Linked DNA regions of Homo sapiens: regions 1, 3 and 4 are each linked to region 2. The links come from fine-mapping of genetic effects on gene expression. A gene starts in region 2. Each other region holds a variant in brackets. All regions are shown on one strand. Distances are from middle to middle. Region 1 overlaps TBC1D9 (TBC1 domain family member 9). Region 2 holds the start of TBC1D9 (TBC1 domain family member 9). Region 3 overlaps TBC1D9 (TBC1 domain family member 9). Region 4 has its middle 40 kb from the start of TBC1D9.

What was found. PIP is the estimated chance that this variant, and not a neighbour inherited with it, causes the effect. A credible set is the group of variants that fine-mapping cannot tell apart.
Region 1: its variant is the best candidate, but not a certain one, in a credible set for the expression of TBC1D9 in whole blood (INTERVAL, PIP 0.80).
Region 3: its variant is the best candidate, but not a certain one, in a credible set for the expression of TBC1D9 in nasal epithelium (TOPMed, PIP 0.56).
Region 4: its variant is the best candidate, but not a certain one, in a credible set for the expression of TBC1D9 in whole blood (INTERVAL, PIP 0.57).

The regions. Positions count from the first base shown.
Region 1 is chr4:140,715,061-140,720,212 of GRCh38, reverse strand. The region is part of intron 1 of TBC1D9 (TBC1 domain family member 9); the gene reads left to right. It overlaps TBC1D9-AS1 (TBC1D9 antisense RNA 1), which reads right to left. Exons shown (of 2, transcript XR_007058283.1): 2 at 4,117-4,417. Among named protein-coding and RNA genes, the nearest start is that of TBC1D9-AS1, 5.5 kb to the right of the region's middle. The variant A/G (reference allele first, on the strand shown) is at 2,605.
Region 2 is chr4:140,753,792-140,758,943 of GRCh38, reverse strand. It overlaps TBC1D9 (TBC1 domain family member 9), which reads left to right and starts at 2,559. Exons shown (of 21, transcript NM_015130.3): 1 at 2,559-3,028. The coding sequence starts at 2,899. RefSeq lists enhancers at 2,037-2,086, 1,577-2,218, 2,219-2,861 and a silencer at 2,517-3,206.
Region 3 is chr4:140,668,242-140,673,393 of GRCh38, reverse strand. It overlaps TBC1D9 (TBC1 domain family member 9), which reads left to right. Exons shown (of 21, transcript NM_015130.3): 7 at 2,468-2,674; 8 at 3,590-3,760; 9 at 4,327-4,477. Among named protein-coding and RNA genes, the nearest start is that of TBC1D9-AS1, 41 kb to the left of the region's middle. The variant T/C (reference allele first, on the strand shown) is at 2,342.
Region 4 is chr4:140,793,688-140,798,839 of GRCh38, reverse strand. No RefSeq gene overlaps it. Among named protein-coding and RNA genes, the nearest start is that of TBC1D9, 40 kb to the right of the region's middle. The variant T/C (reference allele first, on the strand shown) is at 2,803.

The DNA of each region.
Region 1 (5,152 bases), 39 kb after region 2:
TTCAAGCACTCCCTTGCTATTGAGCTGATGGACTTACTGCTCCCCACACATCCCATGTGCCTTCCCACCTTGGGGGCTGCCTTCAGCCACCGCAATCGGTACTATTTATTGAACACCTACCAAGTGCCAGGTGCTGTGCAAAATTGGTTCATGTGCAATATTTCCTTTAATCCTCATTACAACCTCTCAGGAAGATACTATTATCTTCATTAAGTGGGTGAAGAAATTGTGGTTTTTATCAGTTATATAGCTTGCCCCAAGGTCATGACCCTAGGAAGCAGTGGAACAGGGATTCCACCCAGGTTCTTAATGCAAAGCCTGTGGTTTTGAAAAGCTACCTTCCACCAAACCCAACTCCAGGAGGCAGTTCAAAACAGTCTCCTGCATGAGTATGCCAGCCTTGGGTAAGTACCGTGTAACATCTTCTGTATTACCCTTGAGCTATGTACCCTTGAACTGACTGAGCAAATGACCATTCTAATGATTGCTATTTGTATGTGCTGCTTCTTTCTTCGCAGCCAGATCCTATTCTCAAAGACATCAGTGATAGATTATATTTCTAGTGCCCAGCAAAGCTTCCTCTCCACAGGTGCTCAGTGTCTATTTCATGATGCTAAGGATGAAATCACATCATGCCTCCAGGACTAAGGCCATATTTTTCCTTTACCTCTTCTAGACACTAATAATCATGGTGACTACTTCCTGGGATTCAGAACATAACTTTAGCAAGCACTTCCTTCCAGTGCCCAGCTTCCTTCTCTGTAGAAAAAGAAGATGCAAGTTTATGTCTTGACGCTCCTTCCCTGCTCCAAAATTAAGCATTATTTAAAGAAAAATCCTAGTTAGATTACATGAGTGAGAGACTCTACAGTTTTTGAAGCACTCCCATACACAGTATGTCATCTGTTTCTCAGCAGCCCTGGGAGACTAGCAGGGAAGATGAAATATCCCTGATGTAGTGGCAGGAAACTATGACTCAGAGAAGCTAAGTGACTTGTCTGAAGCCACACAGCTTGTGAGTGGGGAAATGAAGACTTGAATCCACTTTCTTTTATTTATTTATTTATTTATTTATTTATTTATTTATTTATTTATTTTGAGATGGAGTCCTGCTCTGTCGCCCAGGCTGGAGTGCTGTGGCATGATCTCAGCTCACTGTCACCTCTGTCTCCTGGGTTCAAGTGATTCTCCTGCCTCAGCCTCCGAGCAGCTGGAATTACAGGCACCCACCACAGCCAGCTAATGTTTGTATTTTTAGTAGAGACTAAAAATACAAATTTTTTTTGTGTTTTTACAAAAATAAAAACAGCCTTGCCATGTTGGCCAGGCTGGTCTTGAACTCTTGACCTTAAGTGATCCATCCACCTTGGCCTCCCAAAGTGCTGGGATTACGGGTGTGAGCCACCAGGCCAAGACTGAATCCACTTTCTCTGATTACTTTACACAACACTAGGTAGGAATATTAGGGACATTCTTATTGCTGTCATAGAAATAGGCCAGAACAAACATCTAAATGTTTTTCCTTAGACTGCTGGGTGCTCTTTCGGATTTAAGTTAAATGAGCTTAGTTTTTCTAGGGGTTTCCCTGGTGATCTTCTGGAAATTATTTGAAAATAGCCATGTTGGTAATTTCCTAATCATGTGGCTTGTTCGTTGTGAAAATGTTCAGTCATTGTTGTTGCTTATTCATTGGACTGTCTGGGAAGAGCTAAGGAGGTATGAGGCCCTGGGTTTATGTGGGGTAATTATTACATGGAGGATTATATAGGGTAGCTCTGACTCTGTTTTCCTCAGGGTTCATTCAGAGGAGAGAGTAATGAAGACCAGAGATCCTCACACTTTTGCAAAGAGGGGATTGTTCTGTCTTAATAAAAATGTTCAAAGAACTAGCATAAAGATCAGGCAAATGTCCTGTGAGTCACCTCCCAATGTGCATAGCTGAATGTACTTTTTTTTTTTTTTTTTCTGAAAAAAGGAACAGAAAAAAAACTAGGTATATCACATTTAAATAAAATAAAGCATATTTCATTTAACTTTTTAAAAGCAAACTATGGGGAAACTATATACTATTTACTCAATTGAATTAGTATATACTAATTACTCAATTGAATCCCATCAGTATGCATTGAAATTAAATGTATAGAAATATTGTAGAGTAAAGCACTATTATCTAAAATGCTTTTATGCTTTATTTGTTCTAATACAGAGCTTTCTACCTATTTTCATATCATAGCATACTTAGAAAATGATAGTGTTTGCAGGGCACAAAAGGTATCCTAAGAGCCAAGAGAACAAGTATATTGCTAGCTTGTCATCATTTCCTGGGGTACCACTGGGAAGTTGTGACCTGTAGACTTAAAGAAATAAGTTGGGGGGCTCCTGGGGATACCATGGCTTTCCAGTCTGTCTTTCATGACTGCACTGTGTTCTACCCAGTGGGAACCCTGAGAACATGAAACACATACTTGTCCCAATCACATAATCTTCACGCTGCACCTGAGCTGTAGAAAGAATCTGTTTCCCTGATCTGTGTTCTAGATTTCATAGAGGCCCCGGCCTTCCACCAGCAAAGGAAAAGTTTTGAAGCCAGCAAGTTCTGAGATG[A/G]GATGCCTAGTGCTGCCCTTGCCCATTTTCAGCTGAAAGTGAAGGTTTATTGTACCCAGTATATGCTTCAGATAAATTAATTTGATAGTCATAAATGAAATATTGTCCCAACAGGAAAGCTGAGTCATGTCTAAAAGGATTATGCATGGTGAATTAGCCATTAACAAAGAATCATTGCCATTATTGAATCATTTATGTCATAGTTATTGAACAGGAAGGCCTCTACGGTTAGAAGAAGCAGCTTAAATGTTGTTGTTTTTATAACTGGAAAATTTTAAAAACAACAACTTGGGCTTTTCCCCTCTCCCTCTCTCTTTCCTGACCCCTCTCCCAACTCCGGCTCCAAAACAAGACAGGAAAGTTGGGCAAAAGCTCCTGTCTGCATCTCCTGGTTCAGGTAACATATGTTGATTCTCTAAAGGATTATGACTTTTATTTAGGGTGATGTAACAGAACGTGAGGAAGAAAGTGAAACCTTTGTTTATTCAAAGAGGATATTCTTTGAGAAACACTGGCATAAAATAAATTCTTGCAGGTGACTGTCTTTTAAAAAGTTTCAAAATATTTATTTTGATATAACCCAAGTCTTTCATTGTATTATTGTTTTATTAAATGCAGAGATAGGTTGAGACCAAACCTGGAGTTGCTTTTTTTGTTGTTGTTGTTGTTTGTGTTTTTTTTTTTTTTACAGCCCCCATTACTCTAAACTCAGTTTAAATGAGCATGTTTTAAATCAGCATAGTGGGTTGTAGAGGGTGTGGGTGTGTGTGTGATTTTTGCTTTAAGGAACTAGGTGTAGACAATATAATTAAGGGTGAAAAAAACGTAAGTTCTTCATTACTTTAAATTTCCCCATTCACTAATCAATAATATAAAAATAATTTCTCCCACCTTGTGTTTTTGCTCATCAGTTTCTAACTGAGGATGTAAGGAGTCAGTGATACTGTTGGTATCCTACCCCTCTGTTGTGACAAGTTTATAGCATGAAAAGAGAATGGTTTCCTGGAAATGACTTTGTAATTACTTTGCAAAGAAGGGCCCCCAACTCTAGTACACTACTTTTGTTATTGCCAATGATGATTTCTTCTCATCCATTATTGATATTTTTTTTTCTTTTTTGAGACAGGGTCTTGCTTTGTCACCCAGGCTGGAGTACAGGGGCACGATCATGGCTCTCTGCAACTTCCATCTCCAGGTTCGAGGGATTCTCTCACCTCAGCCTCCCAAGTAGCTGGGACTCTAGGCAAGCTCCACTACACCCAGCTGATTTTTAAAAAACTTTTTGTAGACATAGGAGTCTCACTGTGTTGCCCTTGCTGGTCTCCAACTCCTGGGCTCAAGCAATCCTCCTTCCTTAGCTTCCCAAAATGTTGGGATTATGGGCATGACCCACTGTGTCCAACCTATTATCAATGTTTTTCAAAACAGGTTTCAAGCTATCTTCAGGCCATGACTAAACTACTTAGAAAATTTCAGTTGGGCCTAATATATTCTGTAAGGGACTTATCTACATTTACAGGTCATTTACATTTATTGAAAACACATCCTGTTACAATAGACATCTTGATAAAATAAGGGTGTTACTGGTTACCGTACCCATGGTTTTGCACAGTCAAACCATCTTTGGTGAGCTTCTTTGTTTTGTTTCTCTCCCTTGTTGGTGCCAGGGTGTTTTCTTTATTTTCAGGTCTTCCGAGCTCAATTTTCTCTTTAAGGCTTTATCTAGACTTTAGCTGAAGATTGCTCCCACGTTATCCATCACAAAATGAAATTTGTCTGTGAGGTCCCTCAGTCTTATCCAGGTGGATAAAGGCTAAGATAGAAATGGAATGCAGGTGGAGTTGCTTGCCCTCAAAGTGATGAGGTTCCACGAAACTCCCAGGAATCAAGCCAGGCTGCTACTGTATCTCTCCCTTGCAAATAGCATGATTGTTTTAATTACAGTCTGTAGCCACTATTTTTATCTGTGTTAGAATATTTGGATGCAAGACTGGAAAACATTATTGCTGTTAATGCCTTTGCACCTTCTTATATAACTTGCTATAGTGTGGAAGGGAACATTTACTCAAAGAGCCTATCCAGATGGAGCCAAAGGGGTTAGTTAGGGTTTTTGTTGGTCACTTTGGGTTATAAGGAACAGGAGTCATTCAAGGTACTATGAATTCAACTTGCTGGGCTTTGTTACCAGGATGTATGCAAACTGCAGCCAGTCTGAAAGACCAGAAGCAAGATAACTGGAGGGTATAAACTGAAAATTCTAAGCTCCCCCAACTGATTGATTGGACCCCTTCTGTCAGCCAAGGGGATTCCAAAGTAAACCTGAAAAACTAGTTCAGGCCGTGATGAGAAAGGGGGGTCAGACATGCCTCATTATACTCTCCTTCCTTTGGAATTCAGGCACAACTGACCAGTATTAATATTAAAACAGAGATCTTAAGACTGACAAAACAGACTTGCTTTGTTTGTTTGTTCGTTTGTTTGTTTTGAGACAGGGTCTCACTCTGTCACCCAGGTTGGAGTGCAGTGGTGGGGCTACTGCTTACTGCAG
Region 2 (5,152 bases):
AGGTTACAGTGAGCTGAGATCGTGCCACTGCACTCCAGCCTAGGTGACAGAGCGAGACTTTGTCTCAAACAAAACAAAAACAAAAGATTGTTGTAGGGGAAAAGGTGTGATATCTTTCCTTCCCATAAGGGTCATAGCCAACACACCTATAACAAAAGACAGGCTAACAAGAGAAAAGCACAACACATTTGTTTAATCAAAGTTTTAGGTGACATGGGAACCTTCAGAAATGAAGACGGAAAAACCCAGGGAAACCTGTCTATTTTTTTTTAATAGAGATGGGGTCTCTCTGGTTTAATACAGATGGGGTCCTCCTGGCTCTGCCTACCAAAATGCTGGGGTTGCAGGCATGAGCCACCATGCCCAGCCTGTTTATTTTTTTGAGAGAGTCTCGCTCTGTCCATTTTTGTGCTTAGGTTCAATGAAGAGTGGGCAGCCATGTAGATGTGGTTGGACAAAAGGGTAAGATCCAATGGTAATAGACTGAGAACAGACCCAGTCTGTCTGTTCAGATTCTTCTTGGCCTCTCCGTATAGCTTTCCCTCCTCCTGGGTTTAGAGCAGGACTCCTTTGGAAAGGGGACCTACTATCCAACAAGGTAGGGTAGATAATTTCTTTATTTCTCTATTCTTTATGTCTGCTCTTACACAGAAGAGTGAGGAATGGTAATATTTCTAGGTTTTGTAGCTTCCTTTGGGAAGAGGGGTTTTAGTTTCTATGACCTGCCTTTAGTTTCCATGACTCACTTTGGGGGAGAAAGAGAGGTGGGAGACAGGAGGGCAGAAGGAGGTCAGAGAGAAACTGCTTCTGAGGCCTTTCAATCTCCTTTAGTTCAAAGTACTCAGCATGCCAAAGCACCATGCTTTGTGGTATCATTTTCCAAACCCCAACATGGTATTAAGGCACTTAGAGTTTTTAAAAATACCAATTATATCAAGTAAAAGAATACCTATGGAAACACTTCAAAAATATAAAAGTTACATGATATATTAATATAATTTTTGCATATGTATGACTTATAATCTTATTGTTTGCTTTTTATTTGCAGATTTTGTGACTGAAGGCACTGCACTGTGACCAAAAGTGCCAAATGAGTTTTTTGAGTCTGTGTTAAATACATGAGGTTTCCACTGATGCCTGGAAGAAGCAGATCAGTCTGTGTGGTAACATCAAGGGAAACTTCCATTCCTTGAGAGCCCAAGCGGTAGGAAGCGAACAGATGAAATGGCAGTCTCATTAGAATGGCTGGTGATTTGCTCATTCGACTAATTGAAGGAATTCAACAATTCAAGTCGGAGCTACAAAAGTCACAATTTTGAAGCCCACACAAGAAGGTTTCATTTGAATCTCTGCTCATTTGGAAAGGGAAAAGTCCCTAGGATTGCCCAGCATCCACAACAAAGCAGAGTCTGCTAAATTCCCATCATTTGGGAAGAGGAACTTTTTTTTTTTTTTTTTTTTTTTTTTTTTTGGCTGAACTATCCTCCAGATCTCCTGGGCGGGAGGAAAAAAAAATGGTCATCAGATATGTAGGCAGATGGGCTGTGATCACCACTGGAAGCTCGAAGTATTTGGGGAAACTGAAACTGTCTAGGGATAAAGCTGCCCTGGTTTGTGTGTTTCTGGTTTCACTGATTAAAAAAAAAATCCATCTACCAAGAGTGGATAAATTTTAAAATTCTGCCATGCCCAGTTTTCGAAGCCCCAAATGCGATATAGGAACAGCTGTGGTGTGAATTAGTTGGTCTAAGCTTTTGGGCCGCTTCCAACTTCTCTATTGCTCACGCCCTACAGGTCAAGGAAAGAAGTGATGTAATGCACTTAGCTAGGCCACTTTAATTACAATGGAATGGAGAGGGGGGAGGGGTCACAAGCGGTGACAAGTTTAGCGCATGACTTGCCCTGGGGATGCAGGAAACAAAAACATCGACGACCATTGGCTGCGTTGGCTTCCGACCCCGGGTCTCTAACCGAGCTCCAGGTCTGGAACCTTGAAACACTTTTCCTGGGAAAAGGGGTGGCGCTATCCCATAGAGCGTCAACCTTAAACACAAACAGCACACACGCACCCACGCAGGCTGGCGGCGTCCTCCCTGCTGGGATGGGCGTCGGGCCCAGTGCTTGGCACACGGTCCCCAGGAGCTTCCCCCGAAGGTTCCCCCGAAGCCAGCCACAGCTGCTCAGCTCGGCGCGCGGAGCCCGCGGTGGTACCGAGTCCGCACAAACCCGGACCCGCTCCAAGTGAGCCGCGTTGTCGTCATTCATTCGCAGTGTCCGGAGCGTCCTTCCAGCGGGGAGCTGGGCTTCCCTAGTGGCGCCTGCGGCCCCGACACGGCGCGTTAAGGCGCGGCGACTTCGGGAGCTCGAGCAGGTAGAGACGGGAGGGGCTCTGGAGCTCCAGTCGGCGCCGCGGGAGCAGCAGCGCCGGAGCCCAGCTTGGCCCTGACCGCGGGGCCGAATCCGCTCGGGTGGCCCTTAGCCCTGCCTGGCGCTGAGCCGGATCCCGGGACTGAGCTATACCACTTCCTCCTCCTCCCGCTCCCTTCCTCCTCCTCTTCCTCCTCCTCCCGCTCCTCCCGCCGCCGTGGGCCGGGAGCCGGGCTGCAGAGTGCCAGGCCGGGCGTCTGCGGCCGCGGGCTCTCGCGGGGCGGCGACGCCGCGGGGAGGATGCTGCTTGCCGCGCCCGCGTCCTCACCGTCCTCCCGGGCCGCCTGCTGGGGCTTTGTTGTGGCCCGGACGCCGCGGGCCACCCCCTGAAGTCGCCTGCCGCCGCCGCCGCCGCACCTAGCGGACGGGCGGGCGGGCGCGCGTGTGCCCAGGAGTGCGCGCCTGTCGCGGTGGTGGGTGCAGGACTGGACCCACGGGCCCATTGTGCGCCCGCCCGCGGCAGCCAGGACCATGTGGGTGAACCCGGAGGAGGTGTTGCTGGCCAACGCGCTGTGGATCACCGAGAGGGCCAACCCATACTTCATCCTGCAGCGGAGGAAGGGCCACGCCGGCGATGGAGGCGGCGGCGGCGGACTGGCGGGTAAGGACCGTGGCCGATCCCTGCAGGAGGGGAGCCGGGAGCGCTGCGGCGCCGCCCGCGGCCTGGGCTGCAGGCTCGGGAGACGCCGCCCGGTCCCCTGGGGCTGGGCGACCCGCCCTGCCTCGTTGTATGCGAGGCATCGAGAGTCGTGATGTTCAGGTTGGGCAGAGATGCTTCTTTTTTTGACTCTGTCAGGCTTGGGGCCCTCAGCGTACTGAGCGCTCTTTAAGTGGATATGTTGAGGAGAATGGGAAAGAGTGAGTCTGGGGCGGAGGGAATGTATTATCCCCTATATATTGAATGCATCATTCCCTTCCCCTCCCCCCCTTAAAAATATTGTTTTCCAAATGGAAAAGAGGGATGGAAGAAGGTTAATTTTTGCTCCACTTTCTTTACTGGCAACAGCAGGATCAGGTATAAAATGCTCTTTTGTTTCCAGGGAAGCGATAAGTAAGGAACTGATGTGGTCATTTCCTATATGAGTTATGACCGAAGAGAATGAATACGGAAACAGGAATTTTTTTGTTTCACCTAATTAGACATAAAGCAAAGCAAATTGTCTGGTTCTAGTTGTAAAAATAATTGGCTGTATAACTGCATTTTAACTATTTTTGCTCAATCACTTCTTCCCTAAACCCCCTCCCTTCAAGGTATTATTGTAATTGTTGCTGAAGCCATGTCATATCATTCAGGATAATAAGATCAGTCAGACCCATATCCAAAGTAGTGCCATATTAGAAATAATCTCGAACTCATACCATACTAGAGAAATTGGACCTTCTCCATCTCTGTGTTATTTAGAATGAACAGAACTGGAATACTTTTTACAGTGAAAAAGTTAGCAGAAGAAATAGTAGAGGTTTCACTAGAAAGGAGACTGCAAAAAAGAGATGAACTTTGACCCTCCTCAGAGTTGAGCTTATATCAACCTCATATATCACCTGGAGTTTGCACAATAGGTAAATTGTTGCTTTCAAATGCTGTGCTATGAAATAAAGATTCTTGATATATGTATTTACTTATGATTATATTTATAAACTAATTTTCTTAAGATTAAAATTCAGGTGTCATGTGGTACAATGTATACTGGTATGTTTGAAGGATCTTGATTCTACCAGAAAAGATAAATCTGCAGAGCTCCAGACCCCATTCTGGAAATACTTACTAGTGATCTGATACCAGGATTTTCCAGGTCATTTTGTAGAAGTTATCTAACTCTAAATGTTAATATGTAATTTACATATCTAATATTGGAATCAGCCCACATTGTCCTTTTTTTTTTTTTTTTTTTTTTTTTTTTTGAGACAGAGTCCTGCTTTGTCGCCCAGGCTGGAGTGCAGTGGCGTGATCTCGGCTCACTGCAACCTCCTTCTCCTGGGTTCAAGTGATTCTCCTGCCTCAGCCTCCTGAGTAGCTGGGACTACAGGCATGCACCAACCCGCCCGGCTAATTTTTTTTGTATTTTTAATAGATGGGGTTTCACCATGTTGGCCAGGCTGGTCTTGAACTCCTGATCTCAAATAATCCGCCCACTTTGGCCTCCCGAAGTGCTGGGATTAAAGGCGTGAGCCACCTCACCCGGCCCATGTAGTCCTTTAAGCCTAGGACAACAACACAGAGTAGATAATTTATTGTAGTAAAAAGAGAACATTTCCTTCTGCAATTAACCCTCCTACACCTTGTAAGCATTAAGTATTCATTTACCTGTGTCATTTGTAATAGGATGTGAAAAATTCAGGGATTCAGAGCCTTCTTTTTCTGCTTAACATTTGTATTGTGTTCCTACTGGTTCTTAGAGCTATAACTGACTACGGTCCACTTGAAATCTCATCTTGTCATCAATGACTTCTTTCACTTAGGTAAAATTACATCTTGTAAATTGAGAAATCACAGTGATTGCACTTATTAATGGAATAATTGAAATCATTGTCATGAGTAAAAGTATTTATGACAACAAAGGCTATTTTCAAGCAAGAGAGGTAAAATGTTTGGTCTAATACCTTGGTGCCATGTCAAATGTAGCAGGAACATTTTAGAAATGTTACACAATGTGTAGTATATTCTGATTCTAATGTAAGTTCATTCATTCACTAACTCACTAAATCATTTAACAAATATTTGTTG
Region 3 (5,152 bases), 86 kb after region 2:
ACGGAATGCCCACTTTTAAGATTGTATAGACCAAGAATTGTTGTTTCACTTAATTTTTTTAAATAAATAAGCTGAAATATTGACTGGAGGTTTTTAACACACATTCTACATATTGACTTAAGGTAGACCCAGTCAACAGATGTTAAGCATTTATCCAGGATCATGTTGCTATAGATTTTGAAGAAATTATTAAGCCAGCAAGAGAAGGAATTTTTTTTTTTTTTTTGATATGGGGTCTCTCACACAGTCATCCAAGCTGGAGTGCAGTGGCACAGTCTTGGTTCACTGCAGCCTCCTCTTCCACCTCCTGGGATCAAGTGATTGTCCTGCCTCAGCCACCTGAGTAGCTAGAATTACAGGCATGCGCCACCACCCACAGCTAATTTTTGTATTTTTAGTAGAGATGGGGTTTCATCATGTTGGCCAGGCTGGTCTTGAACTCCTGAGCTCAAGTGATCTGACCACTTAGGCCTCCCAAAGTGCTGGGATTACAGGCGTGAGCCACGTGCCTAGCCTTTTTTTTCATTCATAAATTACTTTCCAGTGTTTCATATTAAACACCAAGACTTGATTAAGTTGCAGTCTCTTTTATAACTCAAATTGGTCATGAAAATATGTCTCATTATATTGTAGCAGACTCTAATGTAATTGTTCTCCTTTCCTGGTGGCGGGGAGCTTATGTGATAGAGTTCTGCTAGAACTCATTTATCAGTGAGAAACATTTTATAAGCCGTCTGAGCATTTATATGTTTTATGTGGGAGCTTTCTTGTTTCTGCATACATGCTCCAGCTAGACGAAGGAATTTTTCACTTTGACTTTATCAAGATCCACATAGCTAACTGCGTTTTAGACACATAATGTAACCTTTCATCTCCTTGGCATTTTCCATTTATCCCAGACACCTCATGACCAAAAGAGCCAGTAAAAATTTTATGTGAGAAAAGGGGCTTTTGTGGATTTTAAAAAATAAGTATTCTTTAATACATGCCTTAAGTGTTATGGGAAAATTCTTTTCAGGAAAAGGAGGTATTTCCCTCTGTTATATAGCATTTATTGCATTAGAAAGAAAATCCTTATGTACAACTTCAGGTGTCTCAGAAGATTCCTTTAATATATATAAATATATATTTTTAATATTCTATAATGTATGTTTAATATATAATGTATATTATATGTCATATATTAACACATATATTTAATATAGATATTAAAAGAATCATATATACTCTAACACATATATTCTGAAAACAGCAGTCAGATGCTACACTTTTTCCCTTGATGGACCCCAGGCAGACCTATTTTTTTAGATATGCAAGAGTTTTTAGACAACTTCAATAGGTTACTTAGTCTTGAGTAGGGAAAACATTTCTAAGTTGTGCTTTGAAGGAAATATATTTCACATGAAAATGCTAATGAACAACTTAAAGTTTAACCTGTCTAGACTGCTTGCAGTAGAAATGAAGAAGGGAAAAAAGATCTTAGCTTTAAGTATATTGTCAGAGCTGCTGCAAATAAACCATTTTTCTAGTGCTTGCCTTGAGATTTGTTTTCTAATGTGCTAAAGAGAAAAGTTTTAATGCGTTTATCCTAGTTTCTAGTTGATGAAAATCCTATTATAAATCACCCGTATATGTCTTCAGTTTAGAGCTAAATTTCCCCAATGTGGTAGGCTTCGGCACACACACACACACACACACACACACACACACACACACACAGTCTGGTAGTTCAGATAATGTTGCAATTAAGCTGTTTACATTCTTTACATGTCTGTTCAGAATAGAACCTTTAAAACTTTGCAGTGGTAGAAGGTGAAGGATGAAAAGCCCTGGAGTCTAAATGAAACATTTGAAGGATTGGTGGTGTTTTGAAAACCATTCCAACATTAAGCTTGGTAAAAGGAACCAGTATCATGGGTTGTTTTCTGTCTCTTATGGCTGATGAAGCAGCGAGGAGCCCTCTCTCTTATAGCTCCATGAAATTTTAATGAAAATCAAATAATTCCTTTATAGCAAGGTTTCTCAACCTTGGAGCTATTGACATTTTGGGACAGGCTTTCGTTGTGGTGGAGTGGGATGGCAGGGGCTGTCCTGTGTGTCGTAGGATGTTTAGCAGCATCCCGGGACTCTGCTACCAGATGCCAGTAGTATCCCTCTACCTGTGACAACCCAAAATGCCTCCAGATGTTGCCAGATGTCTCCTGAGAGGAAAAAAGTCCCATTTTGAACCACTGATTTGGAAAAACCAGCAAGACGGTTCCAGTTTCTAGTATAAGCTCCAGTTTGATTGTTTTGAGCTGTTTTATTTTACTGGAACAGAGTCAAAGAGTCTCAGTTTTGC[T/C]TCAATAAAATATAGGTGGTTCCTATAGAATAATGAAAGTGCCGCCTTCCTCCTTTAGTGCTGCATATAGGCTGCTATTGGGTAATTCTTGGAAAATAATGCTCTTTGTTTCCCACTTCTTTTCAGGTGACAATTGTGGAAAAGGCAGACAGCTCCAGTGTGCTCCCCAGTCCCTTATCCATCAGCACCCGAAACAGGATGACCTTCCTATTTGCCAACTTGAAAGATAGAGACTTTCTAGTGCAGAGGATCTCAGATTTCCTGCAACAGACTACTTCCAAAATATATTCTGACAAGGAGTTTGCAGGAAGTTACAACAGTTCAGATGATGAGGTCTGTGGGAGACACCTGAAAGTATTTTTGGTTTATCCTGTTCCTGTGCCCAAGTGTGTTCAGTTCCTTGCCCATTTTGTTTGATCTTCAAGCTTTGCGTCTGACGCCCAAAGCAATATCTCAGCAATATCTCATTTAAATCTCAAGGACTTTGTATTTGGGGTCATAGATTTAGAAGGAACCTTATAGATCACCTGGAATAACACTTTTATTTTATAGTTGAAGAAATTCTTAAGTAATCTGTTCTAGTTACATAGCAAGTGACTCAGGTCCATATAGTGACATTGTTGAGAATGGTACAGAGGTCACTAAATAAAGTCTCAAACCTGAAATACAAATCATTATGATGATTTTTATTATGATAGAATACATATTGGGTCCCTGTGGAATTCTTCCCTGGACCAACATTCAGGAACACTGGAGGCCTGAAAAGATAGGTGACTATCTGAATGGTTAGAGGAAGTTATGGCAGATAAAACATGTTTCGAAGGTGGTAAGCTCACACATAACATCTCTGTCTCTGTTCACCTGCTCCAAGCTTATGTGGACATTTTTGAGGCGCCAGAAACTCAATGGGGTGATGAGGCTGCCATAGCTGCTGATTCAACCATGACATGCTTTGCATACATGCAAATCAGAGAAACAAATGGCCAAGCACTTTGTTGCAAATATACATATAAAACATGAAGATTCAGAAACCTATTGTGAGCATTGAAGTGCTGCGGCCTGGGACCCAGCCACCTGTCTAATCCCTGCCAAAATGATGGCTTGCTGCTTTTCTCGTGTTTCTTCACATAGCAAGAAACACCATGGGAAAAAAATGATGTAGCTTTTGATAACCATACAGAAGACACTGAAGAAGTAGGTTCTATTGCCCGTGTCCTCCCAATGTCTTGTTCCTCTCTGTATTGACAGGTGTACTCTCGACCCAGCAGCCTCGTCTCCTCCAGCCCCCAGAGAAGCACGAGCTCTGATGCTGATGGAGAGCGCCAGTTTAACCTAAATGGCAACAGCGTCCCCACAGCCACACAGACCCTGATGACCATGTATCGGCGGCGGTCTCCCGAGGAGTTCAACCCGAAATTGGTGGGTGCCTCTCACTTTTCCCTGAAACTTTGTAGATTTGAACAATGCCATTAACAATATTTTTTACTGTAAGTAAATTCACACATGCCTATGTAAATGGAGATTTTCCTATAAGTTAAGCAGATTTTTGTCTAAATATGTTATAACTTTCACAGTGGCTTCATGGAAGGAGATGAGTTATAGAGGGTACAGGTGACTTCTTTTGGTCTTGTTTTGTTTTTAACTCTTGCTTAAGTTAAACCAACAAATAAATACCCGATTTCTCAGCCCATATTTAAACATCATTAACTTACTTTCACTTGGGGGTGCAGACATAAAACCATAAATACAATCTCAGGTAAGTAGGATTCTGACTCTGGGCCCAAAAGCTTCATGGCAGAGCTGTAGGCCATGATAGATGTATAAAACTAGAGAAGAACTCCAGAAAATCTGAGTTCCTTTTTCTCATGACTTCTTTCTGGAATTGTCACTCCGTTCAGCAGGGAACATGTTCTGACCTTCCATCACTCTTCTCTTACCATCCTCAGGGTACTTTGGATGTCATAATGTTTCATTATCCCTTTCAGGCCAAAGAGTTTCTGAAAGAGCAAGCCTGGAAGATTCACTTTGCTGAGTATGGGCAAGGGATCTGCATGTACCGCACAGAGAAAACGCGGGAGCTGGTGTTGAAGGGCATCCCGGAGAGCATGCGTGGGGAGCTCTGGCTGCTGCTGTCAGGTACGGCCGCTGGGCTGGGAATGCTGGCGTCAAAGTCTGTGGGACTCCACACCAGGGCCTCCCTGTGCCTTCAGTCATGCCTCAGGGGTTCTTTCAAATATGCATCCCCCAGTTGAAAGCTACATCATGTTTCCTCACCAGAGTATTGAAGTTCCTCAATTATTGTTCCCTTTGTAAAACTATAGGACCCATAGGAAGCGGACCAAATGTTGAATCCACCATCCTTCGAGTCTTTATAAATACTTCCATTTCTTCAGTCAGGCTATTTAGGAATAAAAGAGAACCTGAAGTAAAAGAACAGAATACTTTGTGACTTCAGTAGTTCTTTTTTCCTTGCCCAGCTACGTCAACTTCATTGAGAATGTTTAAGTGTGACACTTCCTCAGAGCAGTCATCGGGTGGGGAATTGGGAGGAAAGAAATAAGAGGAATAAAAAGGCCCAGGTGTTTGATTTTTGCCACCTCCTGAAGTCTTTGGTCATCATTGGAACCATAAAGATGAGGCCAGAGTCTGCACTGGAAATAAAAGCTTACTCAGATCATACCTTGTACTTCAAGCCAGAGATGCCAGGAAGGACAGAAGGGGACACTTCCATGGACCAGTGGTGAAGAGGCATCCATCTTTACTGGTCCACAGACCTGGCTCTTGTGCCTGTCCATCATTCTGTCACATCAG
Region 4 (5,152 bases), 40 kb before region 2:
CACTTTGGGAGGCCGAGGTGGGCAGATGCTTGAGGCTAGGCATTTGAGATGAGACCAACCTGGCCAACATAATGAAACCCCAGCTCTACTAAAGATACAAAAATTAGCCAGGTGTGATGACACACACCTGTAGTCCCAGCTATTCGGGAGGCTGAGACAGGAGAAACACTTCAACCCAGAAGGTGGAGGTTGTAGTGAGCCGAGATCGTGCCACTGCACTCCAGCCTGGGTGACAGAGCGAGACCCTGACTCAAAAAAAAAAAAAAAAAAAAAAAAGAGTACACCCTTAGATAAATTACGTACCTTTTCTCAGCTCCATTTTCTTTATAATGGGGTAGTAATGGAACTTACCCACTTAGGATATTGAGAGAATCAGATGAGATCACGTACACAAAGCATTTAACACAGTGCCTGCAGCATAGGTGAAATTTCCCGGGTATTCACTAAGTACATTTCAAAGTGTCCTGCAGCATCTCCTGTGTGGTTTCTGGGTGAATAATTTCATCTCTCTGGGAAGTTTGGGTTTTGTGGTTGGTGTTAGGCTCCTCAGCTCCTCAGCTTCCATTTTGCTGGTCCTGCTGGCACAGTCACCCATCTGGTAGTTTGTCCTTGATAACCACAGCTCATGGGCACTTTCGGATGGGCAGGGGAGTCTGGGAGATCCACAGTCACTGACTTGAATTGCAGATGGTGTGACTCCGTGCTCACCCACAACCTCCAGCTCGTTGGTTCTAACACTGGATCTCCCCCCCGCCAACAAGGGTTACTCCAGGGTTGGCAAGACGTCCAGTCAAGTCATTCCATCCCCAGATAAGCTCTCACCAATCTCTTGGCAAGAAACCCAGTCACATCTGGCCTTGACTAATGATATTAGTCTTCACCCTGAATCTCAAGGGAGCAATGTCCCAGAGGCTTCTACTCTGGATGTTCCTTCCTCCCTACTCAACTGGCATAAAAAGGGGAGGGTTAAAACACAGAAGTTTGCTCTACTTAAGCATAGCTATGTTGGGAAAATGCATTTCATTTCATACATCAAATGTAAGTTAAGACCCCCGACACAATATCCTGGGAACACCCTGATGCAAGGTTAAGGGGGGAAAACTGTAAAGATTGAGGGAAAGAGAGAAAAAGGAGAGCAGATAAAATGAATTTTTATTAAGTCTTACCCAACATTGAGTCAACCATTCAGAAAAAAAAAATCAGATAATATGCTAATGACTACAACCTAGCCAGATGCTAACACACACCCTCTATTGTGCTTCAGAGTGAACCAGGTTCATCCTTTCTCAGGAGAGTCTGACCATTGCTCTTCCAATTTTCAGTACGAAAATGTGATAAGGAATGAGACCAAGTCAAGGGCTACGGAGAACAGGAAAAGCTGAATGCAAGCAACAATCTGACTGTCAAAGACGAACTAAGCTGGACACTAGCTAAAGCCAGAAGGATAGATTTTATTCAGTAATAACTATCGCTATAGGGAAGGAGTCCAGCAGGAACTGAACTTTAGCTTCAATGAAACAGAAGGAAGAGACTTTTTTTTTTTTTTTTTGACAGAGTCTTGCTCTGTTGCCCAGGCTGGAGTGCAATGGCGCAATCTCAGCTCACTGCAACCTCTGCCTCCCGGGTTCAAGTGATTCTCCTGCCTCAGCCTGCCAAGTAGCTGGGATTACAGGCATGCGCCACCACGCCCGGCTAATTTTTATATTTTTAGTAGAGACAGGGTTTCGCCAAGTTGGCCAGGCTAGTCTCAAACTCCTGACCTCAGGTGATCTGCCCGCCTCAGCTTCCCAAAGTGCTGGGATTACAAGCGTGAGTCATCGTGCCTGGCCTTCAACCTGAAGAAATCTTGTCATATGTCTCCATATATGATCTCATGTTCTCATCCTTTAATTCCTTTTCTTTCATTTGAAACAATGTCCTAATTTACTTCAGTGTAGAAAAATGGCCTCCTGATAAAAAGATTGTAAAACATGCTGAGAAACCTACTAAGAAAAAGATTGTAAAACATTTCATCCCTTATATGTTAATTAGAATATGGACAAAGTTGCTGTAACTGAAGCCCAAAATAACAGTAAACAAGGAGTTCATTTCTCTTCCATGTAATAGTCTGGGACTGGCATAGCAGGGACCCAGGCTCCTTTAACCTGGTTACTCAGCTGTCTCTAGGATAGTACATGCATATTGTCTAGGGTGGATCCTGTGACCACATTCCATAAAGCAGGTTGGAGGAAGAAGCAGGAAAGAGATTTAAGAACATGTCTGGGAAGTAAGACATACCACTGCTGGTCTCTTGGAAGTCTTATTGCTGTAGAAGAAGGGAATATTTCAATTATGTATTTCTATGTAACAAACTTTTCCAACACCTAGTGGCTTAAAATATATCAACTTTTTATTATCGGTCATAATTATGTGAATTGAATGGGCAGTCCCTCTACTGACCTTGCTTAGAGTTTCCCAGGCAATTAAAGTCAGATGATGGTTGCAGCTATCATGTCCAACATGCTCACTCGCATCTGCAGTGCCTTGGTAGGGACGGCTGGAAGACTGACCTCAGCTGGCATGCGTGGAGTGTTGGGCCTTTCCATATAGAAAGGTCTCTCCATAAAGACTCAGGTCTCTCCCTTTCCATAAGACCTTTCTGCATGATCTCTCTTAAAGGGTGGCCTGACTTCTTAAATGGCAGCCTAGGCTTCCCCAAAGTGCAAAACTTTAAGTGCCAGACCTTCCTAATGCTTAGGGCCTGGCACAGCCTCACTTCAACCACATTTTATGAGTTAAAACAAGCCTCAGGCCTAGCACAGA[T/C]GCAAGGGGAGGAGACTGATCAGGTGTAGGTCCTAGGGCGCATGGCACATTGGAGGCCACTGCTGGAGCTGATTATGATAAGATGTATGTATACTGAGTATATGTATTTGTTTGCTAGAGCTGCCATACAAAATGCCATAAACTGGGTGGCCGTAAACAAAAGACTTACTATCTCAGGGCAGGTGCAGTGACTCACACCTGTAATCCCAGCACTTTGGGAAGCCGAGGCAGGTGGATCATGAGGCAAGGAGTTTGAGACCAGCCTGTCCAATATTTGTGAAACCATGTCTCTACTAAAAAAAAAAAAAAAAAAAAAACCATAAAAATTAGCCGGGCATGGTGGCGCGCCTGTAGTCCCAGCTACTCGGGATACTGAGGCAGGAGAATCGCTTGAACCCAGGAGGCAGAGGTTTCAATGAGCCAAGATTACGCCACTGCACTCCAGCCTGGGGGGCAGAGTGAGACTCCATCTCAAAAAAAAGAAAAAAGAAAAAAGAAACTTACTATCTCTGGAGACTAGAAATCCAAGATCAAGGTGTCTGCAGGCTTGATTCCTTGAAAGCTCTGAGAGAAAAAAAATCTGTTCCAGGCCTCTCCCCTTGGTTTGTGGACTGCCATCTTCTCCCTTTGTCTCTTCATGTTGTCTTCCCTCTGTGTGTATCTCTGACCAAAATTTCCCCTTCTTACAAGGACACCAGTTATACTGGATTAGGTTCTACCCTAATGGCCTCTTCACTTTAACTTGATTACCTCTGTAAACATCCTATCACCAAATAAAGCCACATTGTTAGGTATTGGGGGTTAGGACTTCAACATAGGAATTTTCAGGGTGCATGATTAGACCCATGACACTGAGGAACAACTAACAGTCTTTGATAAGCTTTGCAATACATTAACCTTTTACTTCCCTAGAAATACGTTGATAATAATTTCCTCCTTGCATTGTACTTTTTATTATTTCTTGAAAAAAATTGGACATTTAAAATATATTTTCTACTTTTTGCCTGTGTACATTATCTTATAAATCAAAATTGTCACTGGCAACACAAAGTTCATGTCACGAAAAGGCAGAAATATGCAGTTCCAATTTTGCTCTGTCTGTTCTGTTAAAGAGCCTCATATTCAGTTTAGAAAGAAATAACAGGAAACTTTAGCCTAAAAACAAGTGAGACAATTTAAGAGAAAACTTTAAGACCTCTAAATCAATATCAGGGCCCAAAGGAATTAAGTTTTATCATTCTAAGAAAATATGAAAAATAAAGCATCCTGTTGCTATAGAGTTACCTGATTATATCAGGTCCTCCTGAGCCTGTCATAGCAGATGATGTACCCAAAAACAACATAGGCTGGAATACTCATCTGCACACACAGGAAATATGTACAAAGACGGTCATTGCTGCTGCACTGTTTGAAAGAGTATGAAATAGGGGGAAAAGACCTAAATGTTCCATTCTCATTAGGGGTTTGCTTATATAAGACATAATGTATCTGCACCATGAAATAACGCAACAATTTTTAAAAATGCAGCTGTATTATACGTAGACAAGGAAGATCTCCAAGACACATTGTTGAGTAATACAAAGTAAAAAACTAAACACACAAACAATATGTATTTTCTACAATTATATGTAATGCATATACATATATGTGTGCACATATATGTATGTGGATATATATATTTGTACTTATATACGTGTGTGTATATGTGTATGCATAGACATGTGTGTATACACATGCATGAAAGTATATAGGAGATAAAAGCTGTGCAAAGATATGATTCTCTCTAAACAGAAAAAGAGCCAGAATTGAGGATGGGGAACAGTCCAGAAATGATTTTATTTATAATGACTTAATTTTTTTACCAGGATATTATATTCATTTTTATATGTTTAATAAAGATCTAATGTAAAAATGTAAGAGAAGCAACACAGCGCAGTGGCTAAAAGCATAGACACAGAAGCCAGACTATGAATTTGAAGCCCAGATTTGTCACTTTCTACCCATGTGACTTTGAGCTGTTTATCTTCTCTGCATCAGTCTCCTCAATAATCAAGTAAGAATAATGTTCCTACTTCAGAGTGTTATTATGAGGGTTCAAGTATTTTTAAATAACCTAAAAAACCCCTGATGCACAGTAGGCATATTTGTTAGTTTTTAACTGTTTAAAATGATTGATTAAAAATATTTTCTGAAATAGAAAGGACTATAATGGGATTTGCTGAATGAGGGTGATTAGGATATGGCCATTGGGAGAAGGGATAGGAAATCGTAACACAATACACAGCAACCCTCTTCACATTTGACTTGTTTGTTTAGTTCTCCCCTGCCCCCGCTTCCTTGCTGAATTTTT